Linked DNA regions of Homo sapiens. The main gene of each other region encodes a partner of the protein of the gene in region 2 in a complex. Each region holds a gene or a part of one and is shown on either strand. Other genes may lie near its edges.

What was found. Proteins that work in one complex are often made in the same cells at the same time.
Region 1: EIF3K (region 2) and EIF3J share a complex: the UniProt entries of both Homo sapiens proteins name them as parts of the eukaryotic translation initiation factor 3 (eIF-3) complex.

Annotation. Positions count from the first base shown.
Region 1 is NC_000015.10:44,550,638-44,554,291, reverse strand, and holds part of EIF3J (eukaryotic translation initiation factor 3 subunit J), read right to left. Parts: intron 3,417-3,654; coding exon 3,362-3,416; intron 2,862-3,361; coding exon 2,770-2,861; intron 1-2,769. UniProt on the Homo sapiens protein: Component of the eukaryotic translation initiation factor 3 (eIF-3) complex, which is required for several steps in the initiation of protein synthesis.
Region 2 is NC_000019.10:38,622,073-38,625,726, forward strand, and holds part of EIF3K (eukaryotic translation initiation factor 3 subunit K), read left to right. Parts: intron 1-2,004; coding exon 2,005-2,125; intron 2,126-3,654. UniProt on the Homo sapiens protein: Component of the eukaryotic translation initiation factor 3 (eIF-3) complex, which is required for several steps in the initiation of protein synthesis.

The sequences.
Region 1 (3,654 bases), on a different chromosome or scaffold from region 2:
GATTCTCATACCTCAGCCTCCCGAGTAGCTGGGATTACAGGCGTGCACCACCACATCCAGCTAATTTTTGTAGTTTTAGCAGTGATGGGGTTTCACCATGTTGGCCAGGCCGGTCTTGAACTCCTGGCCTCAAGTGATCCGCCCATCTCAGCCTCCCAAAGTGTTGGGATTACAGGTGTGAGCCACTGCGCCCAGTCCACTTTAGGTATCCTTAACCCAATTTTAAAGATAAGCAATGGAGGCACAAAGAAACAACCTGCCCACAACTAAATAGAAGGTAACAGCTGGTAACGTGACAGATTTGTACCCAGGAAGACTGGGGTTACTTCTATAACCTTTTTTAAAAAAAGGAATTGAGACTGTGGACAAGGTAAAAATATTACTTTCATACACTGCTACTAAAACTATATTGGAAAACCCTTTCTAGGGCAACTTGGTAATATGGATCAAGTCTTAAATAATATTTTTACATGCTTTAATCAAGTATTCTACTTCCAGGTATTTACCTTAAGAAATAAGATGCACACAAATATGTAAGCCCAAGAATGTACATTAGAGTATTATTCATAATTTCAAATAAATTTACAGACAACCTAAATGTCCAACAGAATGGTTCAAAACATTTCCCCTTTTCATCATATTGTATAATTATAAAATTACCACTATAACAAATTTTAAAGATATAATAGTAGATGTCATTTGTTTCCCAAACCCACTTCTCTGACATGACAGTTGACAGCTTAGTGTATATCTATCTTCTCTTTATACTGGAATATAATTATTTTTTCTTTTTTTTTTTTGAGATGGAGTCTCGCTCTGTCGCCCGGGCTGGAGTGCAGTGGTGCGATCTCCGCTCACTGCAAGCTCCGCCTCCTGAGTTCACACCATTCTCCTGCCTCAGCCTCCCAGGTAGCTGGGACTACAGGCGCCCGCCACCACGCCCGTCTAATTTTTCTATTTTTTAGTAGAGACGGGGTTTCACCGTGTTAGCCAGGATGGTCTCGATCTCCTGACCTTGTGATCTGCCTGCCTCGGCCTCCCAAAGTGCCAGGATTACAGGCGTGAGCCACCACGCCTGGCCGTTTTCTTCTTTTTTTTTTTGTTTTGAGGCAGGATCTTGCTCTGTCACCTAGGCTGGAGTGTAGTGGCGCAGTCATGGCTCACTGCAGCCTCAACTTCCTGGGCTCAAGTGATTCTCCTACCTTAGCCTCCCAAGCAGCTGATACTACAGGCATGTACCACCACGCCCAGCTTATTTTTCTATTTTTTGTAGAGACGGGGTCTCCCTATGTTGTCCAGGCTGGTCTCAAATCCATGGACTCAAGCAATACTCCCACCTCAGCCTCCCAAAGCGTTGCAATTACAGGCATGAGCCACCACGCAGGCTGTTTTAATTTTTGAACCATGTAAATGTGTTCTGAAATAGAAAATAGGCCAGGCACAGTGGTTCACGCCTATAATCCTAGCACTCTGGGAGGCCAAGGCGGGTGGATCACCTGAGGTCAGGAGTTTGAGACCAACCTGGCCAACACGGTGAAATGCCATCTCTACTGATAATACAAAATTAGCTGGGCATGGTAGCACATGCCTGCAGTCCCAGCTACTCGAAGACTGAGGCAGGAGAATCACTTGAACCCGGGAGAAGGTTGCAGTGAGCCAAGATCACGCCATTGCACTCCCGCCTGGGCGACTAGAGTGAAACTCCATCTCTAAAAAAAAAAAAAGAAAAGAAAAGAAATAGAAAATAGGCTGGACGTGGTGGCTCATGCTTGTAATCCCAGCACTTTGGGAGGTCGAAGCAGGCAGATCACTTGAGGTCAGGAGTTTGAGACCAGCCCGGCCAACATGGCGAAACCCCATCTCTACTAAAAATACAAAGATTAGCCAGGCATGGTTGCGTGTGCCTGTAATTCCAACCTGGGATGCTGAGGCATGACAATTGCTTGAACCTGGGAAGTGGAGGCTGCAGTGAGCCAAAATCACACCACTGCACTCCAGCCTAGGTAACGGAGTGAGACTCTGTCTAAAAACAAAAACAAAAAAAAACAAGCATATATTTCTGATCCTGTGCCAAAAAATCAAAAACAAATACATTTATATAGCACATGGCACAGAAATGAACAATTTTTATATTATGTTCAATATATACACTGCAAATAAAAACTAATCCTGGCCAGACGCGGTGGCTCACACCTGTAATCCCAGGACTTTGGGAGGCCGAGGCGGGTGGATCACGAGGTCAGGAGATTGAGACCATCCTGGCCAACATGGTGAAACCCTATCTCTACTAAAATACAAAAAATTAGCTCGCCGTGGCTCCTGTAGTCCCAGCTACTCAGGAGGCTGAGGCAGGGGAATGGCTTGAATTCGGGAGGCAGAGGTTGCACTGAGCCGAGATTGTGCCACTGTACTCCAGCCTAGCGACAGAGCAAGACTCCGTCTCCAAAAAAAAAAAACAAAAAACAACAACAAAAACTAATACTGCTGACTAGAATGAACTACAGGCACTGGCAAAAATCACTGACTGTAGTCACTGCACTATCATGACTATTCCTGAATGTTTGTGAAAACTTAAAAGACACTCATATATAAAACTGGGTTCTGTTTTTGCAAAAACCACAAATCAATTTGTTTTGGATTTTACCTATCTTATGGTATCCATTTACAGTCTTCACAGAGCCCTTCAAATTCCTAGGTAATATTTGCAGCCTGTTAGAAACTATACCACTACCGATGTGAGAATTCTGTATTTTAGAAAACAGAATTTACCCTCTTTTTAATTTCTTCTTGCCTTTTCTTCTGTTGCCGTTCTTTCTCTTTTATCTTCTCTGCTATTTTTTTCTTTTCTGAAATTTTTACCTCTAAAAGTAAAAAAAAGTTTTATTCAGTTATACTGAGTATTTTCCAGTTTATGGATGAGACAGACATGATACTTGTATACTATTAAGAGACCAAACCTTTCCCAGCTTCAAACAGTGATTTTTCTCACAAATAATGGGAAACTTCTGGGACTCTTCCTTCTCCTCTCTAATGTGACCCCTAAGATCCAAATATCTCTTCATATTTCCCCACCGTCCTATAGGCAGGGCTTAGATCATTCAACTATAATTAATGCCAGAACCTCTACCCTTTCCTACTAACAAGCACTCATACAGAAATACAGCAAGTATCTAATCTGATTATATTTTGAGGCGATAGAGAAAAGTTGCAGGGAAAACAGAATAAAGTGGGAATGGAAGGACACTTGGTTTCTAAATACCAAAATGTTCCATTTTGTGAGCGTTCTGTCATTTGTCTTAATACAAGTCACAAATGCTCAGCAAGACATAAAAACAAAAATGGAGGCGCCCCAGTGGCTCACCTGGTTTTACTTCTGCTTCCTCTTTTTTTTCATCATCATCGTCATCCCAGTTATCCTAAAGAAAAGGACTTCCATTAATAATTCTTGCATGTTTGCTTTTCTATGTGAACTTTATTATCAACTTGACTAACTCCAGAGAAATGTTTGTTGGTATTTTTTTGTACTGCATTAAATTTATAAATTAATGTAGGGGGAATTGACATCTTATAATGCTGAGCTGCCCTAACCAAGAATAAGAACTGTCTTTCCATTTGATCAAGTACATTTTTGTACCTTTCAGAAGTGTTTTAAAG
Region 2 (3,654 bases):
TTTTACTTGGGTGCTTTCTTTCTTTCCTTTTTTTTTTTTTTTTGAGACAGGGTCTCACCTTCTTGCCCAGGCTAGAGTGCCTTGGCGTGATCTCATGATCTCAACTCAGTGCATCCTTTGCCTCCCAGGTTCATGTAATCCTCCTGCCTCGGCCTCCTAAGTAGCTGTACGTATCGGGGGGCCTGCCCCGATAATCACGTAGGTTCTTTTCTATATTCCTAAGCATTGGCTGGCTTGAGAAATAGAAGGACAGAGTACAAAAGAGAGAAATTTTAAAGCTGGGCGTCCGGGGGAGACATCACACATTGGTAGGATCCGTGATGCCTCACAAGCCACAAAAACCAGCAAGTTTTTATTAGGGATTTTCAAAAGGGGAGGGAGTGTGCGAATAGGTGTGGGCGACAGACATCAAGTACTTAACAGGGTAATAGAATATCACAAGGCAAGTGGAGGCAGGGCGAGATCACAGGACCACAGGATCAAAGCGAAATTAAAATTGCTAATGAAGTTTTGGGCACCACTGTCATTGATAACATCTTATCAGGAGACAGGGTTTTGAGATCAACCGGTCTGACCAAAATTTATTAGGCGGGAATTTCCTCTTCCTAATAAGCCTGGGAACGCTATGGGAGACGAGTTTATTTCACCTCTGCAATCTCGACTATAAGAGACAGGTACGCCCCGGGGGGCCCGTTCAGAGACCTACCCCTAGGTGCGCATTCTCTTTCTCAGGGACGTTCCATGCTGAGAAAAAGAATTCAGCGATATTTCTCCCATTTGCTTTTGAAAGAAGAGAAATATGGCTCTGTTCTGCCCGGCTCACCGGCAGTCAGAGTTTAAGGTTCTCTCTCTCATTCCCGGAACAATTGCTGTTATCCTGTTCTTTTTCCAGGGTGCCCACATTTCATATTGCTCAAACACACATGTTGTGCAATTTTTGTAGTTAACGCAATTATTACAGGGTCCTGGAACGATATACATCCTCCTCAACTGACAGGATTAAGAGATTAAAGTAAAGACAGGCATAGGAAATCACAAGGGTATTGATTGGGGAAGTGATAAGTGTCCATGAAATCTTTACAATTTATGTTTAGAGATTGCAGTAAAGACAGGCATAAGAAATTACAAAAGTATTAATTTGGGGAACTAATAAATGTCCATAAAATCTTCACAATCCACGTTCTTCTGTCATGGCTTCAGCCGGTCCCTCCGTTTGGGGTCCCTGACTTCCCGCAACAGGTACGCACCACCATACCCAGCTAATTTTTGTATTTTTAGTAGAGACAGGGTTTTGCCATGTTAGCCAGGCTGGTCTCGAACTCCTGACCTCAGGTGATCCACCCGCCTTGGCCTCCCAAAGTGCTGGGATTACAGGCGTGAGCCACTGCACCCAGCCTAATTTTTGTATTTTTAGTAGAGACGGGGCTTTGTCATGTTGGCCAGGCTGGTCTCGAACTCCTGATCTCAGGTGATCCGCCCATCTCGGCCTCCCAAAGTGCTGGGATTACAGGCTTGAGCCACCCACCTACCCACCCCCACCGCCACCTTCTGTTGTCCTCTTTTGCAAGGGAGGAAACCGTCAGCCCCTCAGTTTCCTTTCTCTGCTCCTCAGCCTTTCAGTGCCTCTTAATCTCTCTCTTCTCTGCTCCTCGTGTCATAAATAAGCAGTCCAAGGTCACTCAGCAGGGAAGTTTAAACCGAGGCAGTCTGGCTCTGGTTCCTTAGCCACTACTCCAGACCACTGCTGCTGTTCTCATTTGTTTATAAATCACTTAGCAGTGTCTGCCCCATTGGGTAGTTGTGAGCATTAACTGTCCCTGTTCACAGAGGAGAAAGGTAGGCTCAGGGAGGTGAAGGTTACACAGCTGGGAAGCACTGGGACTGGGATTGGAACCCAGGCATGTCCAATTCCCAAACTCCAGAATAAAGCAGCTGCCTGGCACCTGGTGAGGATTGGGGACTTGGAGGTGCCACTGTGGCCACGTCTCTTGTTCTTTTTCTTAGGTACCAGTTCAACCCAGCCTTCTTTCAGACCACGGTCACCGCCCAGATCCTGCTGAAGGCCCTCACCAACTTGCCGCACACAGACTTCACCCTGTGCAAGTGCATGATCGACCAGGCACATGTATCCTTCCAGCACTGGGGCCGGGGGGTGTGTGGGAAGGGGTCAGAGTCAAGGTGCATGAATTCCCAGGGAGATGGTCTGTGGGTGTATCCACAAACAACAAGTGCCTGCTCTGGTCCAGCGTGGCAAGGTGCTGGACAGTGCTGGGACACTGGTGACTGAGACAGTCCTGGGCCCTGTCTTCACAAAGTTGTCGCAGTCCAGTGAAGAGTCAGTGATAGACTGGAGTGGTCAGGGTTGGGTTACAAGAGTCACAGCAGCCGGGCACAATGACTCAGGCCTCTAATCCCGGCACTTTGAGAGGTCAAGGTGGGTGGATCACCTGAGGTCAGGAGTTCGAGACCAGCCTGGCCAACATGGCGAAACCCCATCTCTATTAAAATACAAAAAATTAGCCAGGCACAGTGGCACACACCTATAGTCCCAGTTACTCAGGAGGCTGAGGCAGGAGGATCACTTGAAGCTGGGAGATGGAGGTTGCAGTGAGCCGAGATTGCGCCACTGCACTCCACCCTGGGTGACACAGTGAGACTCTGTCTCAAAAAAAAAAAGAAGAGCCAGAGTAGGCACCTGACCATTTGGGTGGGGGAATATGTGGACATGAACACAGCCATCTGTATTTACATTCTATAGAACAATGTCTGGAAAGGTGGAAAGGTACCCAAGAATTGGAAATGACTGTTACCTCCCAGGAAGGATGGCTGTGAGACAGGGAAGGGAAGACCTATTTTGCCACTGTTCACTCTTCTGTATTTTTAACTAGAAACTATAAACCAGGGCCTCCTGGAGGAGGGAACATCTAAAACATAACGAGTTAGGTGGAGGGGTAGGCAAAGGTGATCCAGGCAGAGAGGACACTCATGGGCTAAAGGAAGCAGAGCTCGGTGCTGTCTTTCAGGAATGGTAGAGGAAGCCTGACATAGGAATGATTTAAGGTGGGTTTTTTTTTGTTGTTGTTTTATTTTATTTATTTTATTTTTTTTTTGAGACGGAGCCTTGCTCTGTCACCCAGTCTGGAGTGCAGTGGCGTGATCTCGGCTTCCTGCAACTTCCACCTCCCAGGTTCAAGCTATTCTGTCTCAGCCTCCTGAGCAGCTGGGACCACAGGTGCATGCATGCTACCACGCCCAGCTAATTTTTGTATTTTTAGTAGAGACGGGGTTTTGCTATGTTGGCCAGGCTGCTCTCGAACTCCTGACCTCAGGTGATCCACCCGCCTCAGCCTCCCAAAGTGATAGGATTACAGATGTGAGCCACCGTGCCCAGCCTATAGGTTTTATTTTATTAGTAATAATAGTAGGGTTTTTTTGTTAATATTTTCTTTTTTTTTGAGATGGAGTCTTGCTCTGTCATCCAGGCTGGCGTGCAAAGGCGTGATCTTGGCTCACTACAACCTCCTCCTCCCGGGTTCAAGTGATTCTCCTGCCTCAGCCTCCCAAGTAGCTGGGACTATAGGCACGTGCCACCACACCCAGCTGCTTTTCGTATGTTTAGTAGAGATGGGGTTTCGCTATGTTGGCCAGGCTGGT